Homo sapiens: one gene and its partners. The protein of the gene in region 4 purifies or fractionates together with the protein of the main gene of each other region. This does not show direct contact. Each region holds a gene or a part of one and is shown on either strand. Other genes may lie near its edges. The genes, in order: VAPB, DYRK1A, AKAP11 and PRKAR1A.

Region 1 (7,760 bases), on a different chromosome or scaffold from region 4:
TCAGTCCATGCCCACTGTTGTGGTCAAGGCCACAGTAGGCTTTCCCTGCATGTGAAGTTGTCTCAGGGAACTTAACTAGATGTGTGGGTTAGCCAAAGCCTTGTAGCAAAGTAACATATTTTAAAGCAGCCATCATTTGATAGGAGTAGGCCCAGCTGTACTCTAGGAAGTAGGCTGAAGGGAGCCACTTGGGGTAGGAAGGCACCTCCCTCCATGCAGTGGGTGTGACTCATCCACAGGATCCTCTGTGTGAGATTTCTCTAGGTTCTTAGGGAAAAAAAAGGGGGAGTATAAGCTGATACCGTTTTCCCTGCTGTGTGAGTGTCCTGATTGTAAAAATTTTCTAGCTTTATGTTGGCAAAATTGTATTTCAAGGATTACCTTGATTAGCTATATGAGAAATGGGTTGGAGAGAAGCTACAACAGTTCCTTAAATGTTCTTAAACATCTTAGATTATTCTATTTAATTCCTGAAGAGATCATTTGGATATGTTTTCTTGAGCAAAACAGGCAGATGGTGTTGCTACCCAGTTTCCCAATTCTGTAAGGCCTGTAGCAGACATTTACGGTAGGCTTGCAGTAGTGAAAGATCCATGGACTAGGAATCAGAAGACTGGGTCCTCGGCCTTATTCCCAGCTCTGTCATGCGTGATTTTGTGGCTCTTAGGTTGGTGACCTGCAAAATGGAGATGTTGGTCATCCTTGCTTACTTCACCAGGGGCGTCCATCCTAAGACATAAGAGAATGCCGGTAAATTGCTTTACAACCAAAGTACAAGTATTAGCATAATAAATGGCACTGACAACCAAGCTCTGACCCTCCTAATGAAATATTTTCTTTCTCAGTGATGTTACAGCCTTTCGATTATGATCCCAATGAGAAAAGTAAACACAAGTTTATGGTTCAGTCTATGTTTGCTCCAACTGACACTTCAGATATGGAAGCAGTAGTAAGTACTGAATGCTTCTTATTTTTTTCAGTAACAATAATTTAAAAAACCAATTAGATATGGAATTGTGGGTGCATGCATTTCAAAATATGTCAAAATTATTTAAAAGGGAATAGTTTTTTTTCAAGGAGGTTTGTACTTTATCTACCTTTATGGTTTTTCTAAAACTTTGAGGAATAATTTTAACATTTTTTGTGACTTTCTAGAAGGCTGTTCTTTTCTGACTTTCCTGAGCTCAGTGTGCTTCAGCAGCTCCTTGCACTGGTGGATGGTGTCTTGCATGGTTAGGGATTGCCTTCTTTCGCCTCTCCTTTCTGCCCCGACAGAAAAGGATACTTTTCATTGTCCCGCCTTTTTCTTACTTGTCTTCTCATCCCCCACAAACTCAAGAGCCATGTGAGAGTGTCAGTGCTGAATGTCCTCACCCATTTAGACATACATGTTTGTGGCTTTGTTCTAGTAAATATGCTTATTTATTTTCCCCCCTGCTTAAATCTATGTTTAACTTTTCTCTAATTTTGATAAAATTAAGATGACTTCATTTTTATAAAAGAAATAAGTGATGTTAGTGATGGTTTTGGAAAAAAAAAAAAGAGTATAATGGACATTCCCTCCAAAACGAGCTTTTTATACATTTGAATAAGTCCATTGGCATTCTGGGGCTGGGAGTTGAATTGAAATCTACAATACAACCCACAGCCCCAGCAGGGACAGATGCGCTTGTCCTTACAGTTCAGGAAAGCAGGACAGGGTTGCCTCATACCACTTGCATTGCTCTCCAGTTTTGGCCCGCCCAAAGGGGAGCCCCGAGTCATCCACGGCAGGTCTGCCCACCTGAGTCCGCTGTTCATCACACCATACTGCAGTTCTCCTCTGTCTGAGTTTCATACCAAGGGCAACTCAGGCCAAGACCACCCCATGCCCTATGTCACCACATAGCCTTTTGTTTAAGTTCTGGAGAAGCATCTCCGCTGATGTTTCACTTGTAGGCAGAAAATGAAGGAGGAGGCCAGATATTTTTGACTTTTAGAGAGATCAGTGATAATAGGCTGTCTTCTTTTCATAAGAACAATTCTTATGAAAACTTTCTCTGATTTTCTGCAACATGATGTGTTACTTCATGTTAATTTGTGTGATCAAAGAAACATGGCAGATAGAAAATAATGGAAGATCCAAGGGTGTGTTCTGTTTGGCTTCTGCTGCATGGCATAGTGAAAAGAGCATGGGCTTGGGTGTTTTCGAGCTGAGTTCTTCCTTTTACTGACGTTGTGGCTGGGAGCAGGTTTTATTAACTCTGTTGAGGTTTTGATCATTTGTAAAATAGGGATAAAAATGCAGCTCACACAGTGGTGAGTATGAAGTGTGCCTGTGTAAGTGCCTGGTGGGTCCAGTGTCTGACACTTGCTTATCAGAGTGTGTAATAGGCCAGTCACTGCATATCTAGTAAAGGGTCATTTTAGTTCCTTGTATGATGATATAAGTTTAAATTTTTTTTATATAAAATGTACATTGTGGGAAATTTTGGAAATACACAAATGAAAAAAATTTAAAGTGACCCATAGTTCTTTTCTACTAGGCCTAACCATCATTAATGAGAAATGAGAGCTTTGTGTTTTTCTTCCTTTTTTTTTTTTTTTTTTTTTTTGGAGACATGATTTTACTGTGTCACCTAGGCTGGAATGCAGTGGAGTGATCTCAGCTCGCTGCAGCCTCCACCTCCTGGGCTCAAGTGATCCTCCCACCTCAGCCTCCCAAGTAGCTGGGACCACAGGAGCGCACCACCATGCCTGGCTAATTTTTTTGTAGAGACAGGTTTTCTCCATGTTGCCCAAGCTGGTCTCAAACTCCTGGACTCAAGCGATCTGCCCACCTCAGCCTCCCAAAGTGGTAGGATTACAGGCATGAGCCACTGCCCCAGCCTGCTTTTTCTTTATTTTAAAATGTTTTTCTTTTTATTGTGATATACAGAAAGTTGAAAAAATAGCATGGTGACCACTCATATAACTTTTACCTAGATTTACATTTGTTAACATGTTGTGACATTTGCTTCCTTTCTGTCACAAACTTTCTTATTTGCTTGAGATGCAAATTTATGACACTTCACCCCTAAATGCTTCAGAGCAAGGACAGTCTCTTATATAGTCATGATACTATTAATCATAGCTGAAAAAAGTAACTTCAATTCAGTATTATTATGTGATAAATTCATATTCATTATTTCCTAGTTGTTCCAAAAGTGACCTTTAGTAGAGGACACCCAAACCTTTTTGTTTTTCAAACTTTGAACTTTTTTTTTTTTTTTTTTTTTTTTTGAGACAAAGTCTTGCTTTGTCACCAAGGCTGAAGTGCAGTGGTGCAGTCATGGCTTGACCTCCACCTCAGCTGTTCGAGTAACTAAAACTACAGGCATGCCACCATGCCGGCTATTTTTTTATTTTTTTATAGAGTTGGGGTCTCACTATGTTGCCCAGGCTGGTCTTGAACTTCTGGGCTCAAGTGATCCTCCTGCCTCTGCCTCTCGAAGTGCTGGGATTACAGGTGTGAGCCACTGCACCCTGCCCAAACTTTGAACTTCTTTTTTTTTTTAAGAGTCCAGGCCAGTTGACTTACAGAATGTCCTGTATTCTGGATTTATTTGATTATTTCCTCATGATTAAATTCAAGTTAAATGTGTTTTGGCAAGAATATTCCATAGTTGGTATTTCATACCAGGTTGTTCCGCTGTTGGTGATGCTGTTTGATCACTTGGTTAAGATGGTGACTGCCAGCTCTCTCCACTGTCATAGCACAAAGCACATTTGCCCCTGTGGTTAATAGGTAATCTGTGATACTCTGAGTCATCTGATACTTTGAGACCATGTGAATATCCTGCTCGCCAGCAGTCTTTCACCTGGTGCTTTTAGCATTCAGTGATGATCCTTGCTTGATATTTTTTTTGACTTATGTGGTAGGCACACGTGTACAGGTGTGTGTGTGCAGAGGAGCAGACTTCAGTATTCTTTGCGATTTTTTCACTTAACATTCTGGACATTTTCTCCATCTAACTGAGTGCTCTTCAGCATCATTTGAGTGGCAGCATGCTGTTCCGTTTAGTGGATCTGCCATAATTTTTGTGGCAGTCCCCTAGGGTCAGATGTATAGATTGCTTCCCACTTTTGGTTCTTGGTACCTGTGTTACAGTAGCTGCCTCTTGCATGGTTTTGGGAAGGGTTGAGGGCATGGAGGGTGGGGGTGCCTTCTTTTTCTATATCATAACCTTGCTGCTATCCTGGTCTGTAATCCTAGAATACCCTGGAATTCCCATCTTCTGCTGCCAAAAGGAGAAGTAATCAGGAGCGTATCCTCTTAGGACATGGGATTTAGCTAGGAAGGTGCTCTCACTACAGCCTGGAGGGATGGAGATGGGTCTTGGGGTAGACACAGCCCACACACTGCCACAGTGACAGAGGAGGGATTTGGTAATGAATGTGTTCCGTTGGTAGTTGGCAGAGTGGTTCTGAAACTAGTCCCAGATAGTATGCGCTTATACTTTCTAGATATGCCTTTAAAATAAGTTTCATTTTCTCATTTTAATTTAATTTATTATTTTTGAGACAGAGTCTCTCAGTGTCCCCCAGCCTGGAGTACAGTGGCATGATCATGGCTCACTGCAGCCTCCACCTCCTGGGCCCAAGTGATCCTCCCTCCTCAGCCTCCTGAGTAGCTGGGACCACAGGCATGTGCCTCCATGCTTAGCTAATTTTTTAATTTTTTTGTAGAGATGACGTCTCCTTACGTTGTGCAGACTGGTCTCAAACTGCTGGGCTCAACCAGTCCCTCCACCTCAGCCTCCCAAAGTGCTGGGATTACAGGCATAAGCCACCATGCCCAGCTGAAAACAAGTTTTATTTTCATAAGGAGAGCCAAGGTTACCTGGTCATCCAGACATTGTTTAGAGGATTCCTTTTTGTTCAGTGGTGGGCCTGTCCCACAGAGTAGCAACATGGGGAGCATTGGTTGACTTTGAGGAGTCAGGCAGCAAGACTTCAGGGTTTATGAAGTGTAATATTTTGAGAAAGTGAGTGTATTTAATCTTGTCATGTTACAAATATTGAAATCTCAGCAGACTTCAGTTCTTTATTTGATATACATCAGGGCTTTCTCATTAAGAGTATTTTTCTGAAATTGTCAGTTATAGGAAGAAAGTTATTCTTCCAGCAGGTTTATAATATCTTGATTATTAAATTTAAATTGTTTTAGTGGAAGGAGGCAAAACCGGAAGACCTTATGGATTCAAAACTTAGATGTGTGTTTGAATTGCCAGCAGAGAATGATAAACCAGTAAGTATATTTATAGTTAACAATAATTGAATGTTGTAAGCTGATACTTATTTGCATACCATTTCCTGCAAAACCAAGATTTAAGTTGGCAAATTATTTTCCTTTATCTGATGTCTGAAGAAAAAAAATAAGCTGAAGTCAGCAAATAAGTGGGCCTTTATGAAATCAGCCTTTGAAAAACTCACGGAAAGACAACTGATTGACAGTGTTTCCCCTTGAAAAGTGCAGCCCGATGGCCATTGAGATGTCATAAATCCTGAAGAGCTTCTGTGGCCTGGCAAAGGTATAGGTTGCTGTTAAACAGTGGGTGAGAGTGAAAGAGGGAACAATTTGCCCTTTATCATGGTGGTTGATGGACGTGTGGGAAGCTTTCAAGTTCTCTTGTTTTACAAAGTGCCCTGTCAGCCTCCCTACCCCTTTTACCCTATCTACCTCTTCAATCAAAGGCTGCTTTTAGATGAGGATTTCTCAGCCTCAACACTGTTGATATTTGGGGCAAATCCTTGGTGGTGGTGGAGGTTGCCCTGTGTACTGTAGGGTGTTTTATTAATAGCAGCATCCCTGGCTTCTGCCCTCTTGATACTGGTAGTACTTCCCAGTTGTGACAACTAAAAATGTCTCCAGATATTGCCACATGTGTCCTGGAGGGCAATATCAACCCCCATTGAGAGTGATCCCATTCCGGTGTTGCCTGTGGGGAGAAGGAAGGAGCCCCATCCTCTAGGCTGTCCACTGTGAGCGCTTTACCTTTCATGATCCTCACTTGTGACCAGTTGAAGAAAGGAGACTGTATCTGAAATGCTAATTTGGACTTCCCTTCAACCTAGTCGAAAACATTTTAATTTTTATAAAAACACCAAAACTGTGAAAGCATGCAGCATGTGAAACTATCCTAGCCATTAATAGCTGGAGTTGGGAAACAGAAGTACCCTGAAATGTTGTGTTAACAGTATCTATGTTGGTCTGCGCGAGTGCTGTTGATTTGTGTCAAAACTACCTGAGATTTTATTTCTGCTGAATCATTTACCACTATCATTACCCTGTTTCTTTAAGTGGATAGTGGTCATTTTTTCCCTCTTCCCAGTGTACATCCTGTCACAGGAAGGTCAGTTTGGAAGCTGTGAAAGCAGTATTCTGGCCTCAGCTCTGTGATAGGTTGACTTGGTAGCCTGGGGCCTTGCTTCACAGGGCCTACTCTTCTCATCTGGAAAATGATGGGTAGAGCTAGATTCCAGGCCAATGATCGTCAGTTACTCTTTCCCTGACAAGCTGCGTGCTTCCATGCCCTCCCTCCACTGACTGGCTCTCATCCCCTGTAAATCTCAAGAGGGGATCATAGCTGAATCTTGGCAGGGGAAATAAGGGGAGTATGTAACTTCCCAAGATTGAAACATTGCAGACACTGAGTTTGTTTCACCTTCATCCCAGCTTCCAAATGCTAAGTTGGTAAAGTAATTCGCCCTCTGTCTAATGCTCTCCCAAGCCTCCTAACCCCACTAAGGCAATCCTAGGGATGTTCACATCTTTGTGGTGACAGTAATTTGTGGCTAATAATTCCTGAGCTTGCACAATTACAGTATGCTGATTTTTCCGTGGCAGGAATTTGATAGTGCAATATACACAGCCCTTTTTCTCTTTCTTTGAAGTATTAGTCTCAGCCGAACTTCATTATTTGCCCTTATCCATAATTTCTAGGGCCCTGTTGCTTTAGATTATTAAGATATCAGATAAAGTAATCCATTTTTAAAATAAATGTGACATTTTACAGTGTGGATGAAATGCTACCACGTTTGGTGTTTGCTGAGAACTACTTTACTTTGCATAAAAAAGTCCATTATTACATGGTCGGTGACACTTAGGCTTTCATTTGTTTTTGAACAGCATGATGTAGAAATAAATAAAATTATATCCACAACTGCATCAAAGACAGAAACACCAATAGTGTCTAAGTCTCTGAGTTCTTCTTTGGATGACACCGAAGTTAAGAAGGTTATGGAAGAATGTAAGAGGCTGCAAGGTGAAGTTCAGAGGCTACGGGAGGAGAACAAGCAGTTCAAGGTAATAGTTTATTTTCTGGTAATCTACAGAAAACAAGGGCGTTTTCACTAGCTTCTTGGGTGGGGAAGTTGATGAGCCAGTGAATATATAGATTTCTTTTTGCTTTTGGTATTTGGCTATTTTTTTCTCCCCAGGGAGAAATTTCCATGGCTTTCATGAGAGTCTCAAAAGGGTCCTTGGATCTGCCTAAATTAAGAACCACTGTCCCTTGATCAGAAATTTCTCAACTGTTGAAGCTCTTGTCCCCTTAAAAAAAAAAACAAAAACAAAAAACTTGGCCGGGTGCGGTGGCTCACGCCTGTAATCCCAGCACTTTGGGAGGCCAAGGCGGGCCGATCACAAGGTCAAGCGTTCAAGACCAGCCTGGCCAACAAAGTGAAACCCCGTCTCTAATAAAAAATACAAAAAATTAGTTGGGTGTGGTGGCAGGTGC
Region 2 (8,334 bases), on a different chromosome or scaffold from region 4:
GAAAACACCTCAGGGCAGCCTAAATTTCCAAGCTATTTCTTAAAAAAAAAAAAAAGGTTTTCAAGTGAAAACAAAGATTCAATCCAAATTAACACTTCGTGTAGTTACAAAACAAAATGCATGCCAAAGGTCACTGTATACCATGTTTATAACAAGGTATCTTGAATTTTCCTTTTGCAGATAGTCATAGCCCTCTAAAAACCTAATGTAAATTACCTAAATACATTGTTGCAGTTACCTAGGCCTCTCCACCCCCATATCTTTAAGTCATAAACAGTAACTCTCCATAAGTAACACGAAGGAGCAAACATCAGACAATATTTTGGAGGGGAAAAAAAATTTAACAAATGGTCGTTTTTACTGTCCACATTCCCTAACAAGACATTACACTAATATGGAATGTTTTAAATTATCTTAAATGTTACTGCCTCTAAAAAACTGGACTTATTTTTAGATATCTTGCACACAATAATGTGTTAAGTTTCTAATAGGTTCCACCAAAATATTGTTAAAAGGTTTAAGAGATGATCTTATACTTAGATCTCAAAACAAAGATCTCACTAGGTCATTTAGTCCATTTCCCACCCCTACCAATAATTACCATTCATTCAGGTCTATTCCTTCAAATATTTTTTCAACACCCACCAGGTAAAAAGGAGTGTGCCTTCATGGCGCAAACACAAGGGGTGACCCTTCCTCCTGCAATAATCTCTGAGCTTATGCCTCTCGAGGTAAAAATGAACTTTTTACAAGAGAACTTTTTACTAGTCTTAACAAGAGAACTAGGTGTAGACATTGACAGAAATCCTTAACTTTCTGGCATGGTTTGAAGTATAAATAAATTTGGACAGCTACCATAAACACCACTGCTATACCAGGGAAAATCCTCCAAAGTACTGGGATACCTGAAGTATGCGTAAAAAATCTTGACTATAATCAAGTAAGCTTTTTTCATAACCAGTTTCTTTGAAATGATCTTCTGCAGCTTAAAACCTTAACACATGAAACTTTAGTTCTGGTCTCACATTTTTAAAAGTCTACTTGAAAACAATATTATCCTAAAGTAACTGATCAAGACATGAGAAATTAAACAACACAAAAGCTAAAGGTAATTCCCCTGAGTTATTAAAACACCTCAAAATCAAAATGCTAAATATATTCATTAATACTTTGGACACATAAACTATAAAAGGGTCACAGAGGAACCCTTAAGCATTCAAAGAATAACTAAAAATAACTTTACACAAAACTTTCTTATGACTCATCAATACTCAAAAAATGACTATAATCAAAATTGTTTGAAGTACAAAACACATCAAGGAATATCTTTAATTCCTTTCATTCAAAAATTGACTACATAGTTTTCTTGGGGGGGGAAAGGCCTGAAAAGTTTATTAACAGGCCTCATCACCATTACCTTACCTTTTGGCCTCGGCAAGCCACAAAGGTAATTCCACGCTAAAAACCTTACGGGGACACATCTCTAGGTTAGAACCCTGAGTCATTAAACACGAATCACTCCAAAATTTGCCAGTATTTCTAATAATGAGTTACACCCTAATGATTCACAACTCCAGACTGGCTACAGCCTTCTGGCTCCTGGAGTCCCAGCTGTATGACCTTAGACCAGTCAGTGCCCCTCTCCAGACTCACTCTCCTCATCTATAAAATGGGAACAGTTCCTACCGGCTGGGCAAGCTGGTCGATCCACTGAAAACCCTAAAAACAGAGCCTGGCACTTGTGAAAACAACGTTCTAAGGCGTATTTTCTGACAATTTGGGCGGAATTCAAGAACCAAATGGTGCTAGCATTCCTGCGCTGTGCCCAGATTATGGGATTCGTGTCACCTAGGGTTGGGCGAAAGGCACAGGCAAGTAACCAGAGTCACTGACTCACTAATTTTACCATTTTTAACTATTTCAGATTAGGGAGGAGCCTTTCGCCAAGTACTGAGCTACTCAGCAGCTTTGGTGGCTCCGAAGCGAGAGTGGGTTTGTGCCTATAAATAGACTGGTGAAGTTTTGTGGCGATACACAGGTATCTATTCTAATTCACCTCTCCTCAGCCACCAACTCCCCCGGCTGCCGGGCAGGTCATCCCTCCACCCCGAGCCGCCGGGGACACTCGCGCTCCCCGCCCAACTTCGGAGGCCAGTGAGTGCCCCTCGCTCCAGCGCGGACCCCCAGGGCCGCCGAGGCAGCGGCTCCCGACCTTCGCCGGCGCCCGGCCCGGCCCGGCCCCGCCGTCCTCGCCCACCCGGCAGCCGGCCCCATTTTCTTAACCCGTGCATTGTCCTTGCGAATCACCCCGGCGGTTCCCACACTGGTGGGGACCGAGAGGAGGGACGAGGGAGGAGCTGGGGGAAGAGGATGAGGAGGAAGAGGAGGAGGAGGAGGAGGAAGACAACCTCCACCCCTTCGCTCGGGCGGCCAGTGAAGGTCTGGCGCTGTCTACGGCCCCCCAGGCCCCGGCTCCCGGGAGGCCGCGGCCCCCGCTCCCACCCTCCGCAACTTTCCCTCCGCTCGCGCCCGCCGCTCCTCCGGGACCCGGCCTGAGGCTCCCTCCCCCGGCGGCCGGCCCTGGGCCCGCGGCGCCTCCTCCTAAAATGGCAGGTCCCTCCCTCCGCCCGGCCGGCCTCGGCTCCGGCCCGGCTGCGGGCCGCCGGGGGAGCCGAGCGCCAGGCCGGGCGGGGCCGCGGCCGGGCCGGACACTCACCGGGACGATGGCGGGGCGCTCGCGCCGCTTCCTCCGGTGAGTCTCAGCCTCGGGCTCCCGCGCCGCGCTCCCGCCGCGGCCTCCGCAGCCAGCGCCGCCCCGGCAGCCTCTCTCCGCCCCCGGCGCTCCGGCTCCTGGCCGCGCCGCAGCCTGCTCAGTCTCTCCTCGGCTCGCGGTTCCAGCGGCGCCCGGGGCCGGGGAGGCGACAGCCCCCTCCCCGGCAAATACCGCAGTCCCCGGGCCCCGATTCCAGGCGGCGGGGCCGCACGGCCGGCCCGGCGCAGAGGGCGGCGTCGGCGAGGCCGGGCGCCGAGCGGCGGCTGCTGCCGGCGGCTTCTTCCCGAGGAGGATTTTGTAAATCTCACAAAATGGCGCGCGCTCCGAACCTGCGCAGCGAGAAGCGCCGGGGCCCGGGCGGCGGCGGCGGCTCCTCCGCCAGGAGAGCCCGAACCGCCCGCCCCCGAGTCCCCGCACAGACAGACAGACACTCGCACACACCCGCACACTCGCGCGCACAATCGCCCTCGCACACGCTCCCTCGCACACACACTCGCACTCACACCGGTCCCGCCTGCTCGCCGGCGGCGGCAGCGGCACCAACAGCAGCAGCAGGAACAGCAGCAGCAGAAGCGGCGGCGGCGGCGCCCGCACCCCCCGCTCGGGGTGTCCGCTCTCTGAGGCCGACCTGGGCCGCGATCAGCAGCAGCGACAGCAGCAGTCTCCCCGGATACCCCCGCCGCGGTTGCCGCCGCCACCCCCGCCTCACTCCAATGGGGCTTTTTATTATTATTCGGGCGGGAAGCGAAAGGGTTTAAAAAAAAACCAACCAACAAAATGGCGACGGACCGACCCGGTCGCTATAGCAACTGTCAATCAAAACGCAAAACCCCGGCTGACGTGCTGACGTCCTCCTCCCGCCCCCCAGCCCCGAGCCGGCGGGCGGGGCCTGTTGCTCAGGTAACGGCAGATTCCGTTCCCTCCTTTCCGTCTCCCCCTCTGTCCCCAGCCAACCACCCAACCCCCTCAGGTCACGTGAAGGATAAATTCGGAGCTCGGGTCCGCTACGAGTGTCAGAGGAGGGCGCGTGATTCGCCCGGGGGAGGGGAGAGGAGGGGGACGGCTAGGCCGAGGGAGGGTAGGGGCTGGGGAAGGGGGGGCGAGGCGGCGGCCAGGCCTGTGCGCGATCGCCCGCCGCCTCCCGGCCGCCCCGCCCCGCCCCGCGCCCGCGCCGACTGCGGCCCGGGGAGCGCGCGCGGCCTCCCGCGCCGCCGCCCCCGCAGCCCTAGCGCCCCGCGCTTCCGCGTCGGCGCCCGCAGCCCCGCCCGCGCCGGGGGGAGGGGCGGGCTGCCCCGGGCGGGGGAGGGGGAGGAGGAGGGGCGCCGCGGCCTTCGGGCGGGGACCCGGGAAGCCCACCCCGCGCGCCCGGGCCTGGAGGGCTCTCACCGCGGTCCGGGCGCCGCGCTCGCCTCTCTCCCCGGGAAGCGCGGCGGCCGCGACCGTCCGCGCGTGGAGCCGGTTCTTCGAAGGGCTGGCGGGCCTCCTAGCCGGAAAATGCCGGCGGAGGCCGTGGTGGGGGCGGGGAGGAGCCACCGCCGCGCCCCAGACATCGCAGGAATTCCGGACGCTGCGCCGGGCCCGGCGGCCCTGAGGCTGGCACCTGGCTCCGGTCGGGCCGCCCAGGTTTTGTGGCGCCCGAGACCAGCGTTGGGAAATTAGGCTGGAGCCATCATGAAAACTTTTTCAGGCAGTGCACGCTCGCCTGTGCCTGCCCATCTGCTTCCAACCTCTCCCCACCTTTCGGGGCGCAGCCTGCCTGCTCCATCGGAATGCCCTTTAGATGAATCCCCTTGTGCTGTTACTGTGTCCTTGTCGTCCAGCTCTCTGGTTTTCTTTTCTATACACCTTCTCGGTTTCCAGAGTCTTAATTCGCCTGCTTGTCCTTAACCATCAAAACTCTTTATTAATATCCTGGCTTTCGCTGATTTTTATTCTCCCTACCCCTTCTCCCTAGCTATGTATTGCTGGGTGAGCTCCCGAGGCTTGAAAACCCAAGTATGCTGTGCTGGCTGCGTTGTAATCGGTAGAGAGCCACCAGCTAAAAATTGTATTTTGTACCAACTCTAATGGCATTTAATAAATGTATACCTAAAAAGAGTGTGTGTGTATATATATACTATTTTACAGCAGAGTCACTAATTGATTTCTAAGCTTGATTTTGCCACCTTGTGATAGTGTTCGTAACCAATTTTTTTCATAAATTTCACAAATGTGACAACAGATAAAATCTTATAAACAATATTAGATGTAAAAAACTCGCAGTAAATGCCGCTGTCTATGCTACATGACTCAAATACACCTGCTTTAAATGATTTCCAGCAAAAATGTCCTTGCTACAGTTACTAGGACATTGATATACTAAGGTAACCATTCAGATTAGCACAGACTTTGAAAGAAATCCGACTAAACCGAAAATAAATTAGTCAAAAAGTAATTACTAAGGTAACCATTCAGATTAGCACAGACTTGGAAGAAACCTGACTAAACCGAAAATAAATTGGTCAAAAAGTGGTCGGGCAAATAGCTTGCTTTCAGGCTGATCTCCATGATATAAAAAAGTTGCCGTAGCTGGCAAAAGTTCTTTCGGATTATTGTTTCAAAATTGCCCTGCTAGTGTGATTAAGGTCCACGGTCAACTTAATTGTTTTGAAGAAAGAGGAAGTGGCCCAGAGCGCCCCTTATTCAGAGGAGAGGTCCCTACCTGGTTCCTCCCAAGCTCAAGCTTCCACCTATACAACCAACTTCTTCCTCTCTGCTTGTGGGTCTCCTTCCTGCCCCCACCCCATCCCACCCCATTCACCAAGCTTTCGCTTCTATCAGAGCACATCAGCATTTGCAACCTTTAATACTAAATTAAATTTGACTCAAATTTTTATTCCTGGTAATGGAAGAAACTTGTATAGTTAATCTTCCAGGTAACCTGAACAGAATATGATAATGTCTCAAGATATGTGTCCTTGTCTTCAGTTCAAATCAACCTAGAAGATATCGGAGTGGGGCAGAATCTTGAGATTATAAACATGCGGGTATAGAAGGCATTGCTGGTCTTCGTATCTAGAAGGCTGCACCCCTTTTCTCCCCAGTGTGACAGCCTTAGACAACATTGGTCAATGAATGTCATATCCAGGTTGGAATGCTGTAAAATGGTTTTATACAGGCTTCACCTAAAAACGTAACCTGTGAATTACAGCTGGCTCCAAACAAGTGACCACATGTAGGCCGGAAGGACTCTGGTATAGATGCCAGCTGACCTGGTTCACAGATGAAATCCTTGTCATCTAAGAATCTTCCCATTAGATTCACTTACAGATGTGTTTATTCATAGACTGTTCACCTTGAAAAGCAAAGGCCCTCAGCTCATAGGTAGTAACAGCCTCCACTTACCCAGCATGTTCTAGAGTATCTCTAATCCTCACAGCAACATTACATCCCCATTATGTGGATGAGAAAACAAGTCCTGAGTGATTACATGACTTTCTCAAGGCAGTCACCACTCACCAGTAAGTGGTGAAGCCAGGATTCAAACACAGGTATAATTGCAAAGCCCATGTTCTTTCTACCACACCAAGATGATTCAAGATTATATGGAGTTAGAGTCTTCACAGAGGTAATCGAGTTGGGTCTCTAGATTGAACCCTAATCCAAAATGACTGCTGCCCTTATAAAAAGGAGAAATTTGGACCAAGACAAACGAACACAGGGAAGAACGTACAGACACCAGGAGAAGGTGGCCATCTACAAACCAAGGCACACCTGAGGCTACCAGAAGCTGACAAAGAAGCATGGAACAGATTTTGTCTTACGGCCATCAGAGGGAACCAACCCTGCCAACATCTTGATTTTGGACTTCTGGCCTCCAGAAATTCAAGACAGTACATTTCTGTTGTTTAAGCCACCTAGTTGTTTGTACTTTGTAGTGGCACTAAGGGAAACTAACACACAGATGCGTGCCAAGATGGTGGTTTCTTTTGGTTGGCTTCATATCCGTTAGTGACCACTCCTGGTGAGGCACTATTCTAAGCCTGAAAGTCCAGTAGTTGGAATCTCGCTGAGAGTTATAACCCAAATAAATATTCCAAGGACAAACAAGCAAACCAGTATTCCTATCAATGCTCCTCACGCCAAGCGAGAAGGTGAACAATTTGCATTTGGTCCCTAGACAGTGGCATGGCGTGGCATCTGACACCCCTACTGTTCTTACAGACTTCTGGGTAAAAGTCTTCACTTGCTGCCCTTGTACAAACTTTATTGTTCGTTCGTTCTTTCTTTTTTTTTTTTTTTGAGACAGAGTCTCGCTCTGTCACCCAGGCTGGAGTGCAGGGGTGTGATCTCGGCTCACTGCAACCTCCACCTCCCCAGTTCAAGCGATTCTCCTGCCTCAACCTCCTGAGTATCTGGGATTACAGGTGCCCGCCACCACACCTGGCAAATTTTTGTATTTTTAGTAGAGAAAAGGTTTCACCACATTGGCCAGGCTGACCTCGAACCCCTGGCCTCAATTGATCTGCCCACCTCGACCTCCCAAAGTGCTGGGATTACAGGTGAGAGCCACTGCACCCGGCCTTGTTTATTCTTATTTTTAAGGTAATTCGTTATCTAAAACAGATTACAAAGAAACAAAATTAATTAAAACAAGAAAAAGGCCTTCTATAAACTGACAATGGTAGTATGCTATGAAATAAGAAGTTAATTCTTTTTTTTTTCCTTTTTTTTTTTTTTGAGATAGGGTCTCACTCCGTTGCCCAGGCTGGAGTGCAGTGGCAAGATTACAGTTCACAGCAGCTTCCACCTCCCAGGCTCAAGCAATCCTCCCCACCTCAGTCTCCTGGGTAGCCGAGACTACAAGCGCATGCCACCACGCCTGGGTAACTTTTTGTATTTTTTGTAGAGATGAGGTTTTTCTGTGTCAACCAGGCTGGTTTCAAATTCCTAGACTCAAGCCATCCTGCCTCCTCAGCCTCCCAAAGTGCTGGGGTAACAGGTGTGAGCCACCACGCCTGGCCGAGGAGTTAATTCTTAATTCTTTGTACCTAAGGTCCAAAAACAAAATGTAACAGTCATGCATGGTCATTACAGACGATTTTACAATATGGAAAACAATGAAGAGGGAATGATTACTCGTAGATATCACCCAGGAAAAAAAAAAAAAAAACCTTATTGGTATTTTCATATTAGCATATGTCCTTCCAGATTTTCTTAGGGAGACATGAGTACATTCACCCACATACAACACTGCAGATATGTTTCATGCCGTTTTTACTTACAATTATACTATGAGCACATTTTAGTGTTAATCAACTGAAATTTAGATAATCATTTTAACAGCTACTAGTATTCCATCAGTTGAATAGGCCATAATTTGTTTACCTGCTCCTCTATTTTTTAAGGAAGTTTTTCCTTTTTGTTGTTGTTGTTACTACAGATAAAGTTGTATAAACATGTCCTACATCCATTTTACACACCTGTCCAATTATCTCCTTCAGATAAAAGTATGCGTCCTTAAAAAGCTTTTGATTCATGTTACCAAAATATTCCTCAGAAGTGATTCCACCAATATGCAC
Region 3 (7,760 bases), on a different chromosome or scaffold from region 4:
CATCTTTTGTTATGCTGTGAACCAGAGAGGTTGAAAAACTATACAGTTGGGAGACCTCATTTCTATATGGATCCAGGGTCCTTTCACAAGTTTGATTTTTACAAAAGTAACCTTCATTTCTTTTACTTTGTCTCTTTTTGTCTGCTTCTTGGTGGTGCTCTTTGTTTGAAAACATTAACAGTTCCTTGTTTGTTTTCACTTGTGAACTTGGCACAGGGAACATTCTTGAGTTGCACTGCACTTTGGTTGTCTTAGCTGCTTCCTGTAATCCTGATTTAACAGATCGGTAGGCAAGCCTATTGGCATACTGATCCATTATCAACTCACTATTACCACCTTCCTGTTTTAGTATCTGAATAAGGTGACCTGCATATTCATCTGTCACACTTTCACAGCTGGGATACTTATACATCAGACCTGACATACAAGAACTTGGTGGTAATGAAAGAATAAACGGATCCACTTCTCTTGGGTGCACTACAGCCTCTATATCCAACTTCTCTTCTACTTTATAATCTTCGTCACCATCAGCATAACAACTGTTCTTCTTTTGCTTGAAAAGCATACAATTTCGGACTTTTGCTATTTTCTCAGCTTCTGTAATGACTTCTGCTGCCAGATCACCCGCAAAATTGCATAATGTTTTCAAATTTTCGTCTGAGGGGTTTAAAAAAGTAGGCGACACACTTCTTTGACTTTGCACATTTAAGCAAGGGTTTTTAACCTTGGGTTCTTGAATTATTTTGTTATCTAAATGGGAAGCTGCCATTTCAGTTGCAAGAGAAAGGATGTGTGTAGCTAATGCTTCTGCAAACTGAACCTTCTTCCCTGAGTGCTCCGACTTCACATCCACTTCTGGGAGCTCTCCACTTTCACTACTCTCAACTTCTTCAGAAAGAGATCGCATGAGTTTCAACATGAACTCTTCTTTTTCTATAGTATTTTGTTCATTCTCAGACAAACTACCAACAGATGAGTTGTGTGGAGTAGAAGGTGGTGTAGCAGGTGCAAACTCTTTGGCTAATTCTCCCTTGAGCTTTTTAGTTAACTTCTTGATATCCCATTCAGAACTAGCCCGGGATGGTACTAGAGGAGTTGATGGAGGAGTATCAGGTATTACATTTCTGTCTCTGACTTTCTGTTTATCTTCCACATGCAAACCATCTACACAGGTAAGTGCTGTAGATGAGAAAGTATGTGAATGAGGAAAGGGGTTTTCCTGTCCAAAAGACAAGGCCTCAAGTGATGTACTATTCAAGTTATGCTTTTTCAGTGGTTGATCCTTAGCAGATTCCTTCAAGTCAGATTTCTGACCTGTCACAGCTGGACAAGATGGCAGTGTCTCTAGGGAGGATCCATGAACCATAGAAACTTTACATTCTGGAACACAATCCTTTGCAGCTGAAAGTGAGCAGTGAGTTAACTGATTCTGAGAGTCAGGAAATTTGGGAGACTTTTCTGGTGTCAACTGTGATTCTTCTCCAGAAACAGGCAAGCTTTCCTTGTATACTGCATTTTTATCTATATTTGGGATCACTGATTTGCTCTTATCTATGGAATGTTTAATAATAGATTTAGATAACCGGTCAGCAAACATGTCCTTATTGCTACTAGCTTCACTGCATTGCAGCACTGCCTGATCACAGTGGGAAAATGGAGGGGTTTTCTCCTTTAAAGATTTAGTTAAATAATCTGTACGTTCATCAACCATTTTTGTAACTTCCAATGATGTCATTGACTCTAAAGTTTCATTTACTATCGTATGCACCACTGCTGCAGAAAAGTTGCTAATAATTGCAGGATCATTTGGTAATTTTGAGGAACTCTGCATTTCAATATCGTCATTAGTTGGTTTAAAATCATTCTGATTACCTGGATTGTGTTCTGAAGGTAAACAAATATTTCTGAGACAAGCTGCTTTTTCTTCTCTGTTTTTTGTGGCAATATGCACTTGGGCAGAATCACCATTTGAATTACTATCATCAGATGACAGATGAGCCTTGGCCTGACATGCAGTAGATGAAATATGATATGGGAGAAGGGCACTTCCTGCCAAGGGCACCGGTATAGAAGTAACAATTCCAGAAGTACAAAACAAGGCCTGCTGCACTGTGTATTCCTTTTTATATTCCTGCACTGGTTTTGTCACCATAATTGCTTGATTGTGAAAAGAAGGGGAAAACGTGACAGCCTGTGTCGATGGCACTACACTTTCTGCACTCACATACTTGATATTATCCGTAGAGACACTAACTGCTGCCTTTGTTGTAAAGGTCACATCAACTTGTGATAGCTCAATGAATGCTTCCTGTATTACAGATTCAGACAAATCTTTTGCATACAACTTCACTACTTTGTCTTCAAAGTCAAACGACCCACACTGTGGAGATGCAGGCGTTTGAGGATATGAAAACTGACACACCTCCATGATGCCTTCAAAAACAAGCTCTTCAGCAAGATCTGCAGCAAACCTAGCAACTGTGTTTGTGAATATCTGCTTCTTTACATACTGTAAATCTTTTAAGGCATTTGATAAAGCTTCACTCACCAAAAAGTTAGCCAGGCCACTAATGGCACGTTCTTTTAGTGAAAATGCACGCTGCCTTCTCAGCTCATCAAATGCCATCTGCAAAACAGATGATGTCAATTTGATGGCTAAGTGGTACAAAGCATTGGTACATGAAGAGACTCCTTTCTGTAAGTCTTTAAATGCACTGCCAAAACTTTTTTCCACAAGATCTGCTGCAAATTTTTGAATGCTATCTTTAATCATTAAGGATTTATTTTTAGATTTATTTTTTTGATCAAGGTTTCCATGCTTAAAAGTTACAGTTTTATTTTCTCCATGTTTAATACTGTTAATATTTGATAGGGTATTAGTATGGTGGGTACGAAGAACTGAGCCTAGTACTTCACATGAAATGCTTTTTGCATAGTCTTCATAGGTGTAATAAACAGAATCATGATTTTCATGAATCCTATCTCCACCAATATCTGTTTGGCAAAAACATTCAGCTGGAGTACAGCCTCCAAGAGGACTAAAAGCAGAGGATCGAATAGGACTAAATAAACCACTATCTTCCCTTGATGCCTTCACTGGGCGAGGAGAATCCGGAGCATCACACAGGTTACCATATGGAGATTCTGGTTTACGAGGAGTTGGCTTTCTAACATTAGCTGGGAGAGCTGGACGATCAAACTTGAATTTTTGAGGATTCATACATGACTTTCCATGTTTGTGCCCTTTCCTCTGCGATGACTTCCCTATGACGGGATCTTTGTTAAACAGGCAAGTCTCTAAAGTTTGTTCTAGTTCATCAAACTGATCAAAACTATCAAAAAATTCACTTACTTCTGAGTCTGAATCCTCTATATCATCTTTCATCACAGGAATTTTAGGCAGCTCAAGTTTTGCTTTTAAGCTTTTTTGATATCCCTCTTCATCCAAGAAAATAACAGGACTTGGACTTGAACATTCTGATTCAGATGAGTAGGCAGGAGAAGACGAAAAAAATGTTTTCTGTAAATCACTATCTTTATCTGAAGCATTAGATGACCTATAGAAACTCCTTTGGGTCCAAGGCTCTGAAATTGATGTTGTGACTGAAGTTTTCACAGAAGGTAGTTCTTTATGTCCCAGGACATTCACTGAGGAAGTTGAGGGTTTAGCCAATGACTTCTGCTGTCCAGAGCTAATGAGAATCTTTAAATCATGGGTTTCTAAATGATGACCAGTAACCGTCTGGGAAGCAGCATCACACTGGCTCCTTAGCACAGTAATGTTCATTCCTATAGGAAAAGAATGAAATGGTGAAATTATTTTTGAACAAAACTTTTTGGAAATTAACTTAAATCCATGGAATAAACTGACTTTAAACATATAATATTTATGTGTATCTTCTAAACTATGTTTAACAGAAAGATTCACCCAAGTAACATTTGAAAGTAAATATACTGTTTATAAAATAATTTCAGTTTACTCTATGTCTAGGGATACCTGGTCTATGGGATGTTTTGCATGCTGTCACGCATGTTAGAAAAATTACCGTGGAGACTCTGCCAGCTAACTCTTCCAAAATTGGAACCTAGGAATGTTCCAGACACTTAATGATGTAACCAGTGCGTGAACAGCACCAACTAAATATGAAAACCTGAAATAAGCAAAACTGAAAACCAGATTACAATGAACTTAAAAATCATAAGGAATTTCCTTAGGTAATCAGAAAAAAAGTTAAAAGGTTTAAATTGAATCAAATCTCAACATAAATTTCAACTGAACAAGCCTGCCTTAAAATTTTCAAAACTGAAAAATTTTAATTCCCTATTTTAGGAAAAAGTCTAATGAAAAACAAACCATCATTGTATGGCTTTGAAGTCTCTTCCTCTTCTAAGTGCTCAAAAGCAGTGACAAAGTCATCCTCTATGGATGACACAGACTGGTTAGTATCATCATCATCTTCATCAGTGGTCTCAAGTTGGTGCTTCTGATGCAAGAATGTGTCCAAGGTGTACCTTATACCAGTAGCATATTTACTTAGGAGACTAAAGATAAAATCAATCCTAAGTCTTGGTGATGTAGGTGACACTCTCATGACACAAAGCATTCCAGAAGGATGACTCTTGGGAAAGATAAAAGATAATAAAAACAATTTTAATTTCAAATACAAAACAACATGAAGTAAAGCCTAGATATAAGACAATCTCAGAGAAAAAAACAAACAAGAAATTCATGCATCCTGAAAAGCTCCTTGGTTTTGTAATGTTTACTTCTTAATTCTTTCTCTACATTTTTCACTTTCCAGTCCTTTTTTCTCCCATCTTCTTTTATCCAGGTATTCAAATTCTACCCAGTCTCCTGAAATGTTATGAAACTTACTATCCATTCCTTTGAGCAATTATGTTTTCCTGTATTACTGTACAGCCCTATGATTTTCCTTAATCATTCACCTATCTCACTAACTATTATAAATTGTTTGGGGGCAGCAACCAAGTTCTATTTTCTTTTATTTTTAATCCCATTTTCCCGTAGTTTCAAGTATGATGCCATCTTCCTTCCTATCACAATTGTTAAAAGTCTACTCCTTTTACTTAAATTTCCCTAGCATTACAACTTACAATGTTTATAGCTTTAAAAATACAAGTAACCAGATTTTCCCCCTCATACTACTTTTTTCAAGTAAATACTGATGAAATTATTTATTCAAAAAACTAGAAATCAAATATAATAGCTTATCACCTCTTATATCCTAGCAAATAAAGCAAATACGAATAAAGAACATAATTAAGGAAATGAAGCAAGCAGTTCTAGTTTTATTGGCAGACCTTATAAAGAACAACATAGCAGTTTTTTTAAAACTAAAATAATCCAAATTTTAAATTTTCTGGTTCAATTGTATATGTCTTATCTCTTAGAATGCAAAGCATTTTCTCTGATGCATTATCAACAAAATCATACTTGGTAAAGAACTAAATGCTGAATATTATAAAACTAACCACCTGTAAGAAATGGTAACATTTTTATTTATAAAGAACACATCAGATGTCCACTTTACATGGAATTTTTTTAAACCAGAAAATGAACTGAAGTACATTCTCTAAAACATATAGCGTAACATTTATATAAATTTGAAATTGGCCATAATAGGGAAAAGTCACTGTAGCTTATACAAAGGTAAAAGTAGTTCAAGAAATCCAGAAATAATAAATTTTCAGAAAAAATTAACATGTACTTGCATACCATCTACGGAACTTCACAGTTAAAAAATATAATTTATAAGATATGACCAAAATTATTATATCCTTCAGGGATGTCAATGCTTCATGAGTTATATTTCTTATGAATCATATTTCCTTGAGATACCATTTAAAAAAAACAAATGTCATCCAAGCATTTAAAAGTTTAATCATCTTTATCAAATATAGTAAAATTTGCCCTAAAAATCTCATTAGAAATTATCTACAAAAGTTACCTGATTTAGAGGATCACTGCTTATATCTAATGGTTTATTTATATTCTTCATACAAATAATTTCATTTTCATTTAGACTGCAGAAGTGGAGTGAATTCAGAATATCTGGAAGTTCCAAAGAAACTGCAGCTAAATCCTGATTTAAAATAATAACAATAAGTAACACTGTAGAGTAACACTTTTGTTAAGGTTCCTATAATGTGGACCCTATCCAAAAATTTTAAGGTCTACTGGCTAGTGAATTTCCTGGTTCATAATAGTTAACATATACAGTTTATTATTCACAGATAATTTTTCAAAAATTCAAAAATAAAATATACTAAAATTATTAAATACTGGCTATCCCCGTAGCCTTTAAAATGTACTGATATCAAGCTATAAAAAAATTGTACAGGGTACCTAACACATCCATGACAATTAAGCATTTAATAGTTTTTAGCAATGTCAACATATAGGTCTTAACTTAACTTTATGAAATTTTTTTCATACAAAATTTTTTGCTAGAGAATGTACATCTTAAAAACTTTTTTTTAAAAACTCTGTACAATATAATCCGTTTTTCTATCTTTCCTCTCCAAGGTATTGTATTAGACTTTAACTGATAATTTTAATGAAGATTAAAGGAAAAGAAAATCGCTTTTATTTCTTCTTCTTGTTTGCCCTTTATACACAAATATTTTACCCAGCTAAAGAATTATTAAAGTCTTTGACCCTTTGTAGAGTACTTTCCTTTATAAACATGGTTTTATCAGTAACTCTTAAAGGAGAAGAAGAACATTAAAGAAATATCTTGGAATACTTCTCTTTCCAGCTATGTATGTTCTCAAGAATATATCCTCTCTTGTTCCTTCTGTCCAAATTATTTCCTTCAAGCAAGGCCACAATCAAAATATACAGCAGTTTTTGCCCATAATCACCTGATATGCATTATTCAGAAAGACCTAAAAATGTTATTTCCTCCTCTATGAGGAGACACTTTACTGCCACAAAAGGAAATATGTAGGAATCACAAATTTTTAAGAAGCAGCACGAGGGAAAAAGAAAAGTATGCCTATCATATGTACAGGAACTTCAACCACTGTTTATGTAACTGTGAAGCTTTCCTTTGCTGATCCCAATCTCAAACATCAGTCCCTCTGTCAATAACTGCCTAAATCAAACAGGCTAAATTTTTGCATTGGCTAATTGTTAATTTTTACAAATCTTACCTTTTAAATTTAACTCAATCTTAACTAAAAACATAAGAATTTTTACTGTTAAGGTCAAAATTATTAAAGCCATCAAAATAAACAAACAAGTCATACATTCTGTATTATACACAGAATGCAGAAAAAGTCAGTCTGCGGTTTGCAACCTTCTCAGATAAATGACTTTTGTGGTCAAACCTAAAGCTGATTTCCATGACAAGAATACTCAGTAAAAATGCTAAAATTCACCATACCTGTATATGAGCAGCATCTGTCTCTTCATTAAAACCCAGAAATGTGACCTGAGTAAAGAACAAATAAACCTCCATTAATTTGAATTTTTAAATCTTTCAGGCTGGTGACAGAGCTGACAAACAGGAAAAAACAGACAAAGCATTAAAATGCTGTCTGCTTGAAAAGGATTTTTTTCAAAGATGACCCAAAAATATTTTTCACCAAAGATTGGGCTCCAAAACGCAGTTCTTAAACCTCATCCATTCTCCCTCACTAGCAAGTTCAATCAATTCTAACCCCAAAACATATTTCAAATATATCCACTTCTCTCCATTCCCCAGCCACCCTTCTCACCTACACTAGTACAATCC
Region 4 (7,760 bases):
TGGGTTAGCAAACTGTAGATGAAGGGCTAAATCCAAGCTCACTGTCTCTTTCGCAAATCAAACTTTACTGAAATACCACATACATTCATTTACATATTATTTGTGGCTGCTTTTGCACTATGACAAGAGTTGAGACTTTGCGAATGAAACCCTATGGTCCACAAAGCTTAACTTACTTACCACCTGGCCCTTTACAGTCTCCTGACCCCTGATTTAAATAAAATCAATTAGCAACTATGGAGCCACATTCATAGAAATCTGCCACTTGGATCCGCTTAGCAAGAGTATCTGCTATACATTTCCATGGAATGTGGAGATATACAAACACAGTAATTTTTCAAATTTAAATAATTACCTTTAATCCTTATTTGCCAAATAGCCCAAACACTTGCATTTTAACAAGAATAGTGCAGAATCATCACAGTTTGTTATGTTAAATGGTTTTTAGAATTTGGCTTTTCATGTCTAGGGCCCTTCAAGAATTCTGACTCAAACTCATTTAAAAATATAGTGACCTGGCAGAAAACCAAACAACAGCATTTCAAAGTAAAAGATAATTTTAAAATAAAATGGTCAGGTATTCTTAAAAACTAAAGCTATAGTTCAGAATTAGCCCACTCTTTCCCTCTTAGAGCGTACAACTTTTTAAAGTATTAAATTCTGAGTTCTTTACCTCTAAAATTCAAGTATTAAATTCTGAGTTCTTTACCTCTAAAATAATGAAGAACTCATCCCCTGGTTCTCCCTGCACCACAATCTTCTGCCCATCTTCAAACTGCACTGGTTCCAATGCATCAGCTACCGTAAGACGTTCCCACTTGTCCAGAGACTCTGAAAGACAAGAATCAAAATAACTGCTCTGTATTATTTGGTGCTGTTATAAAGGTAAAAAGAAAGTATAAAGAGATTCAACCAAATAGCCATGCCCATTCAACATTCTAGTAGTGTCTCAGATTAAAAGTGGTACCTGTCTTCAATTACCTCTAGTCTGAGCAGGATTCTCATACTGCCTGCAGATAGCCCTTAGATCCTTACTTCGGTAGCCCAGTGGCTAGGTTAATTTATACCAACTGTACCAAATGGCAAGGGAATAAGAAAATGTAATCCTTAAGTATTCCTGAAGATTGCCATCAATGCAAATCAAACCTACAACTACAATACTCAAAAGTCATAGTTTCCCCATCCATATCGTTCCAAAGTTTCATAGAAATAATTTAATCTATTTAAATTCTTGGTTTACTTTATGAAAAAGAACTAGAAAATAACTTTTATTCCCAAAGGCCAAACTACTATCCAAAACACAAAGCATATGTAACCAATTCAAAGAAAAGACAAAGAAGAGGTGAAAAATTCACTGTAATAAACAATGGCAGAAGCCTGTTACCTTATAAAAATCCCCATTCCCCTTTCATGAAGAACAAGTTCTAACATCTCCAAGTCCACATAACAAAATGCACAAAAGAATATCTTCAATTAATCTGCTTTACTCTAAATTTCAACAAACTTCTGGCATGTTTTCAGAGGATGCCAGCAAATGATACCTAATCTTTCCACAGAGGAAATGTATTGTTGGAAGTACTCACTTTTCTGAACCAATCAACTCAATGATGGAACAAGAGAGACGGGAAGTCACAGAGGAAATAACTGTGAATGTCCACAGTCAGAAGGACTTTCAGCCCTTCTGTCTTTTCAGGGGGAATGAGTAGCAATTATACTTTCAGAAGGCTTTTCCCAAGTCCATCCAATTCTAATTCAGGGGTATCTCACATACTAGCAAAGTTAACACACTTTACAACTCACCTAAAATAGAGACTTTACTAAGGAATTCCTCATACATCTTCCGCTTTCTCAGTGTGCTTCCCTAAAAATAAAAATAACAAAAGTGATATCCCCAAGACGTGTAATTATCACCACATAATGCTATGGAATAATAAATATTAAGTTTCAAATAAATTTTAAAACCAGAAAGTCAAAGCTTGTTGCTTTTAATGAGGAAAGTTTAATTTTAACTAATTCATTTTTATTTTACAGGTAATGAATGATATGACATTCTTGTGATTTTTATTTTCCGCCAATATTATGCCCAATTCCTAGCATTTGCAACCAGTATGTTGACATATTTCACAAAGCATTTCCCAACTTCCAAATACAGTCGAAATACCGGTTTATACCTGAGCCTATCACTCAAGATATTTTTCCACACACTTTAAACCAATGTCCAATTTCCATGTTTACTCTCAAACTGATTTTGTGCCACTGCCAACCCAATTTATCTCTGAAAATATTTTCTCACAAAAGTAATCTAGGTCATTTACAACCCAATAATCCTAGTGTTCTTCCTGTTCAACGCTGGTATTTAAATGCAGATTCCTCCATTAGTTCTGGCTTCTCACCTATACAATTGACATGTCTTTATTCTATAAAAAAAGGACCATATCCTCCCCTACCCAGCTATATAGATATTTCACCCCATATCTACAGTTCCTAATTCCTGTCCACAAAGCCAAAGCATTGTGAGGCCCTAATTTCCTTTCAGGCCCACTATGAGAAAGTAAAATATTTTATTTCAAACCAATAGTTCCAGGTCCTACCTCTTCCTTCTTTGACAATGAGATAAAGCTGTAAACATTCTATGTTTCCTTTTACTAATAGTATTCCTGTAGAGGAAATGCAGAACTAACTGTATGGTCAGTTTCTTCTCCAGTAGACTGTCACATCACTTCAAAACCAATCTTTCTAAAATTTAGACTTATCTTTGCCATAAGCGTTTTTTTGTGTGTGTGGGTTTAAGGTTCAGGGGTACATGTGCAGGTTATATAGGTAAACTGGGTGTCACAGGGGTTTGGTGTTCAGGTAATTTTGTTGCCCAGGTAATAAGTAAAGTACACCACAGGTATTTTTCCTGATCCTCTCCCTCTTCCCACCCTCCACCCTCAAGTAGGCCCCAGTGTTTGTTGTTCCCCTTCTAGTATCCACGTGTTCTCATTGCTTAGCTCCCAACTGTAAGTGAGAACATGTGGTTTGGTTTTCTGTTCCTGTGTTATTTTGCTTAGAAAAATGGCCTCCAGCTCTATCTATGTTGCTGCGAAGGACAAGACTATCTATCTAATCTAATCTATCTATATATCCCAAATGCAGAAAAATTTCAAAGTACATCAGGCTGTACATTTTCAAATGGTCAGATGGACACTGCACAAATTTAAGAAAACCATTAAAAATGACCAATGCATTGGCTGAGACTTAAACATCCAAAGCTATCCTATAAATTTATCACAACGTTCTCAAAAAATCTGACTATCACCAGAAAGTTCCAATGGTTTTAGTATTTTGTTTATTCCTTTAACGAGAGGGGACATGACATACATATACATTACTGATAACCCACTTTCACAGGTTAGGGAAGCTGATTATTTCTGAATGGCCCCAAATAACTTTAAGCACTTAAAAGCAGCACCTATCATGCTGTAATGGGTATAACTAGGTAAATTAAGATGTGCCTACCAGCAAATGGATAGATTTCCAAACATGAGATGACCAGCACATATATACCAGATCTTGTTTCCCAAGGTTTTGTTCTAAAATATCACTGCCTAAAATGGCATAATGAATAATGCTAAGCTGGGCTTAATGCAAAGTATTTGCTCATTAAAAGAAAAATATTCGCTTATTAAAAGAAAGAAATATTTGCTCATTAAAAGAAATATTCTCTTTTTAATTTGGTAATATTCAAACATTAGTTACGTAGATGAGAATTCTAAATCACACTCTCAAACACCATGGTCTCTTACCATGAGGATTCTTCTATAGCTGTCTCGGTCGATGCCCCACAATTTCACATTTGTCTTTGCTTTGACAGTGGCTGCTCTCGGTGTTCCATAAATCAAAGCAAGTTCTCCAAAGCTCCCTCCTTCCCCAACACTGGTTGCCCATTCATTGTTAACATAGACCTAAAGTGCAAGTGACATCAAAAAAGTTTATTTTCTAGATACAAACACTTAAATGTTAAAAACCCTCAAACCTTTTTAAAAGGTCACAATCCTGAACTTTGTTTTAAAAAACAGAATATATTATGTTTGCAGTACACAACAGAGAAGAATAGGTGATTTCTGACGAGTTAAATGAGTTAAGAGTGTCTATAATTTACCTGATTTAATTATCTGATAAGAAAAAAGCACTCTGTAAGGATGTAAGGGAAAAAGGTCAGCTAAGCACTAATACCAGTCACAGATACTTAGAGAACCGTGCTGAGCACTATGCTAAACATTTTACTTGCATTAGGTCACTGAATCTTCTAATAATCCTAAAAGATCAATGCTATTATTGTCCCCATTTCATTTGTGAATAAGAAAGGTATATTAATTTTGCTAGCTAATGGCTGGGTCTAGAATCTTTTTTTTTTTTTTTTTTTAAGAGATGAGGTTTCACTTTGTTGCCCAGGCTGGTCTTGAACTCCTGGGCTCAAGCAACCCTCTTGCCTCCATCTCCCAAAGTGCTGGGATTATAGGCATCGGCCACTGCACCCAGCTACACACACTTCTTCACCACCACTCCAGCAAAGTTCTGAACAGAAAATTACCTTTAAAGAGTTTCTCTGTGTCATAAAAATACTTGGCAAAAGGTATTAATAAAATCTGACATACAAGGGATGTAATGACCCTTCAAAATCACTATTCTTATTGCTCGGAAGCGATCAATACATTGGCTTTTAAGATCAACATATTTTTGATATTGGTAAATCTTACATCCGTCTCTCCTTGATCAATCACATAGAAGTTATCCCCTTCATCACCTAAAAGAGGGTAAAAAAGTTAGAAGCATATTCCAAATTAAAGAAAGAAATTATCAAAATTATTACAAAACAATAAACTTATTTTACAGTGGTACTGTGAGAGTGTGTTACAAACTAACACAATCTTTCAGGGGAAAGAAAATCAAGCAACATATTTTAAAAGTCATAGAATTAATCAAAATTTTTTTAGTCATCTCATGGTGAAGAATACCTCTGAAAAAAATTTTTAAAAGCTACATATGTGTAGTTATTAACTGCTATGGCATTTATAACAAGGACATTAGAAACAACTCAAATAGTTAATAACAAATTATCAGGCTGCCACAAAATGAAAATATATACCCACTCATAAAATGTCAAGAATAAATAAGAAAATAAAAAGAGGAAGATAGTCAAAAAGTTAGATCCATGTTAGTCTATATAGGCAAAGTAAGAATCTATAGAAGTCCTAGAACCTTTTTAATAGACAGGGCTATACAATGAAGAATGTAGGTGTTTCATTTATTTCTTACTTTAAAAGTGATTAACAATATAAAGAACATGAGAGATATATATGATTCTGCAATTCTATATGACATTCAAGGTAAGACAATGTAGGCATTTCCTTTAAATTATAAACAAAACTGTATCAAAAATATTAGTTCCCAATACAAAGTGTTCTGTCCATCTCAGAAAATCTTAATTTAAAAGAAATAGAAAAATCCAATAGTATAACAGAAAAAAAAAAGTGGTAGGATCAAAGAGGAAAACAAACTTCAATAAAACAAAACCAAAAAAATCCTCTAGTCTCGCCTCCTCTCCCGTAACAATATTGCATGCTCCAGAGGCCCTTACCTTGCTGAATCACAGTCTCTCCTGCGATAAAGGAGACCGAAAACATGGCATCAAAAATATCACTGCAAAAGAGAGAAGGCCTCGTGTTACATTTCACATGTCTCTTCCGTGAATTTCAAACATTAAGCTTAGAATTAAAGACCCCAGACTGTCATCTGGTGAACAATTACTAAGAGCTCTAAAACTTGCAACAAGTGTTGAAAACAATTTGGGATCACACCCTTACTTGAAAAATAGTGTTAAGAAAGAGCCTGTTCCTACCTTCTCTCATTATCATCAAGATGTGAAAACAGCACATTCTTTTCAATGGCTTTGGCTAAAGCGGCCATTGTCTTGTAATCTTTTGGTATAACCTAGAAAAGAACTGAAGGTCAAATGACAATTCCATAAACCAAAAACATTTCACGTTTGCAACCTGCGCTTCAATTAAATGTCAAGCCACATTATGGTATTTAAACAAGACTGCTTTGTAGTGTTTCACTACAACACACTTGTACTATCTTTGATCCATAAACTACTCAACAAGTATTGACTAATTAATCCCCTTGCCTACAGCCAGGCCTAAATATAAAGTCTGGTACTTGGTTCCCAGTTAACAACTAAAGAAACAAATCAAAACACCTGGACCAAGGTCATTATTCTGAGGCAAAACTAAGTATTTTATAATAATTAGTCATTTTAAAAATCTGTGATCTGTTAGCTTCACAAGCCTCAAGTGCCAGGACAATTCTGTTCCCCTTTAAGGCTAACAGCATAACTCAAAATAGCCTGGCTCTGAGGAAGAGGAGAACACAGGACAAATGAGGCTCGTAGAATAAAAGGTTAAAAGCCACAACATTTAATAGGATAGCAAAAAAAGGACATCACGATTCAAGAGAAAAAGCAATACCGCCCACCTCCTTCTACTGCAAAACAACTGCAAGGAAATAACAAACCCCAAAATGCAATTATTCACTAGTTCATAATCACTATTAGTTATTTCCTCTGACAGCATGCTATTACAGAAACCTGTTTTCCAGTACCCAAGAATTGTACAGGATGGATGAAGTTCCACCCTGTTTTGTATTTTATGATTCATTCATCAAAGGAGACTAGATGACCACCAAGTGGGTCCCAAAAGCATCCCCCCGATATTCAAATATCAAAACTACCTTTCTAACATAGGATGCCGCATCTTCCTCCGTGTAGACCTCAGCGCTGATAGCACCTCGTCGCCTCCTACCTTTAACCACTGGGTTGGGTGGAGGAGGAGAAATCTCATCCTCCCTTGAGTCTGTACGAGTGCCTGCTTTCTGCAGATTCTGAATCTGTTTTGCCTCCTCCTGAAAGAAATTACGAGTTTGCAAAATGAGATCCTTCGGCATGTAAAGCTGGCACTCTCATGTTCCAATGATAGTCTATCTCAGTCACTTCCAATCTCTTCTTCCATTAACAATGTAAGTTAAGAGGAAAACACCAATTCCAAAGGGGAAAAAAAGAGAGTAACACTTGAAACACTCTCAACAGAATGTACCTCAGATGATAACAGATGCTATCCTTTATTAATGGGCAAAAGTCATTAGTACAAGCCATTAGTACTCACATAACATGTGAGTAACAAATCAGATATTCATTAATGTCTTGACAACAATTATCTGTGATGCACACAACAGTAACACACTGCAAGACAAAATCCTGAAAATTGGGTTTTTTTGGATGCTACTGCAGATAGCAAGAGACCCTCCTGCCAAAAGAAATGTTATCAGGAAAAACAATTCAAGCCCAACATAGTGATCCAAGAATGTCTAGATTACTGAGTTATTTCATTAACTCAATAAGCCATTTTCTGGATCTGCCAGGCCAAGACCTATGCTAGGCAACAGGAAATTAAAAACAAATAGGAGAGGGTCCTGAGCCTGTGGAATTCACATTCCAGTTTGATCCCAGATAAAAACAAATAATGAAATGATGTGATGGTAACCACGAATTTAAACGAGATCGTATCTATAATACTTCTCCCAGCAGAGCTAGGATCACTCTTTGTAATCAAGGTTTAAACTTGAAGTTAAAAGACAAAAAGAGTTTACTTGCTTTTAAAAACTACTTATTGGACCAATTCAAATAAAACCTAAGATAAACTATTAAACATTCCTTTTTT

What was found.
Region 1: the proteins of PRKAR1A (region 4) and VAPB purify together in Homo sapiens (affinity purification with mass spectrometry; 4 studies listed by BioGRID and IntAct, with this or other methods). This does not show direct contact.
Region 2: the proteins of PRKAR1A (region 4) and DYRK1A purify together in Homo sapiens (affinity purification with mass spectrometry; 6 studies listed by BioGRID and IntAct, with this or other methods). This does not show direct contact.
Region 3: the proteins of PRKAR1A (region 4) and AKAP11 purify together in Homo sapiens (affinity purification with mass spectrometry; 5 studies listed by BioGRID and IntAct, with this or other methods). This does not show direct contact.

What each region holds. Positions count from the first base shown.
Region 1 is NC_000020.11:58,433,757-58,441,516, forward strand, and holds part of VAPB (vesicle-associated membrane protein-associated protein B/C), read left to right. Parts: intron 1-845; coding exon 846-949; intron 950-5,188; coding exon 5,189-5,269; intron 5,270-5,389; exon of another isoform or gene 5,390-5,552; intron 5,553-7,150; coding exon 7,151-7,327; exon of another isoform or gene 7,328-7,328; intron 7,329-7,760. UniProt on the Homo sapiens protein: Endoplasmic reticulum (ER)-anchored protein that mediates the formation of contact sites between the ER and endosomes via interaction with FFAT motif-containing proteins such as STARD3 or WDR44.
Region 2 is NC_000021.9:37,362,011-37,370,344, reverse strand, and holds the start of DYRK1A (dual specificity tyrosine-phosphorylation-regulated kinase 1A), read right to left. Parts: upstream 3,573-8,334; 5' UTR 2,717-3,572; intron 1-2,716. UniProt on the Homo sapiens protein: Dual-specificity kinase which possesses both serine/threonine and tyrosine kinase activities. Exhibits a substrate preference for proline at position P+1 and arginine at position P-3.
Region 3 is NC_000013.11:42,295,392-42,303,151, reverse strand, and holds part of AKAP11 (A-kinase anchor protein 11), read right to left. Parts: intron 7,458-7,760; coding exon 7,410-7,457; intron 6,105-7,409; coding exon 5,970-6,104; intron 4,620-5,969; coding exon 4,355-4,619; intron 3,790-4,354; coding exon 1-3,789. UniProt on the Homo sapiens protein: Binds to type II regulatory subunits of protein kinase A and anchors/targets them.
Region 4 is NC_000017.11:68,521,941-68,529,700, reverse strand, and holds part of PRKAR1A (cAMP-dependent protein kinase type I-alpha regulatory subunit), read right to left. Parts: intron 6,946-7,760; coding exon 6,775-6,945; intron 5,977-6,774; coding exon 5,885-5,976; intron 5,686-5,884; coding exon 5,624-5,685; intron 4,790-5,623; coding exon 4,743-4,789; intron 3,948-4,742; coding exon 3,789-3,947; intron 1,862-3,788; coding exon 1,801-1,861; intron 832-1,800; coding exon 710-831; intron 1-709. UniProt on the Homo sapiens protein: Regulatory subunit of the cAMP-dependent protein kinases involved in cAMP signaling in cells.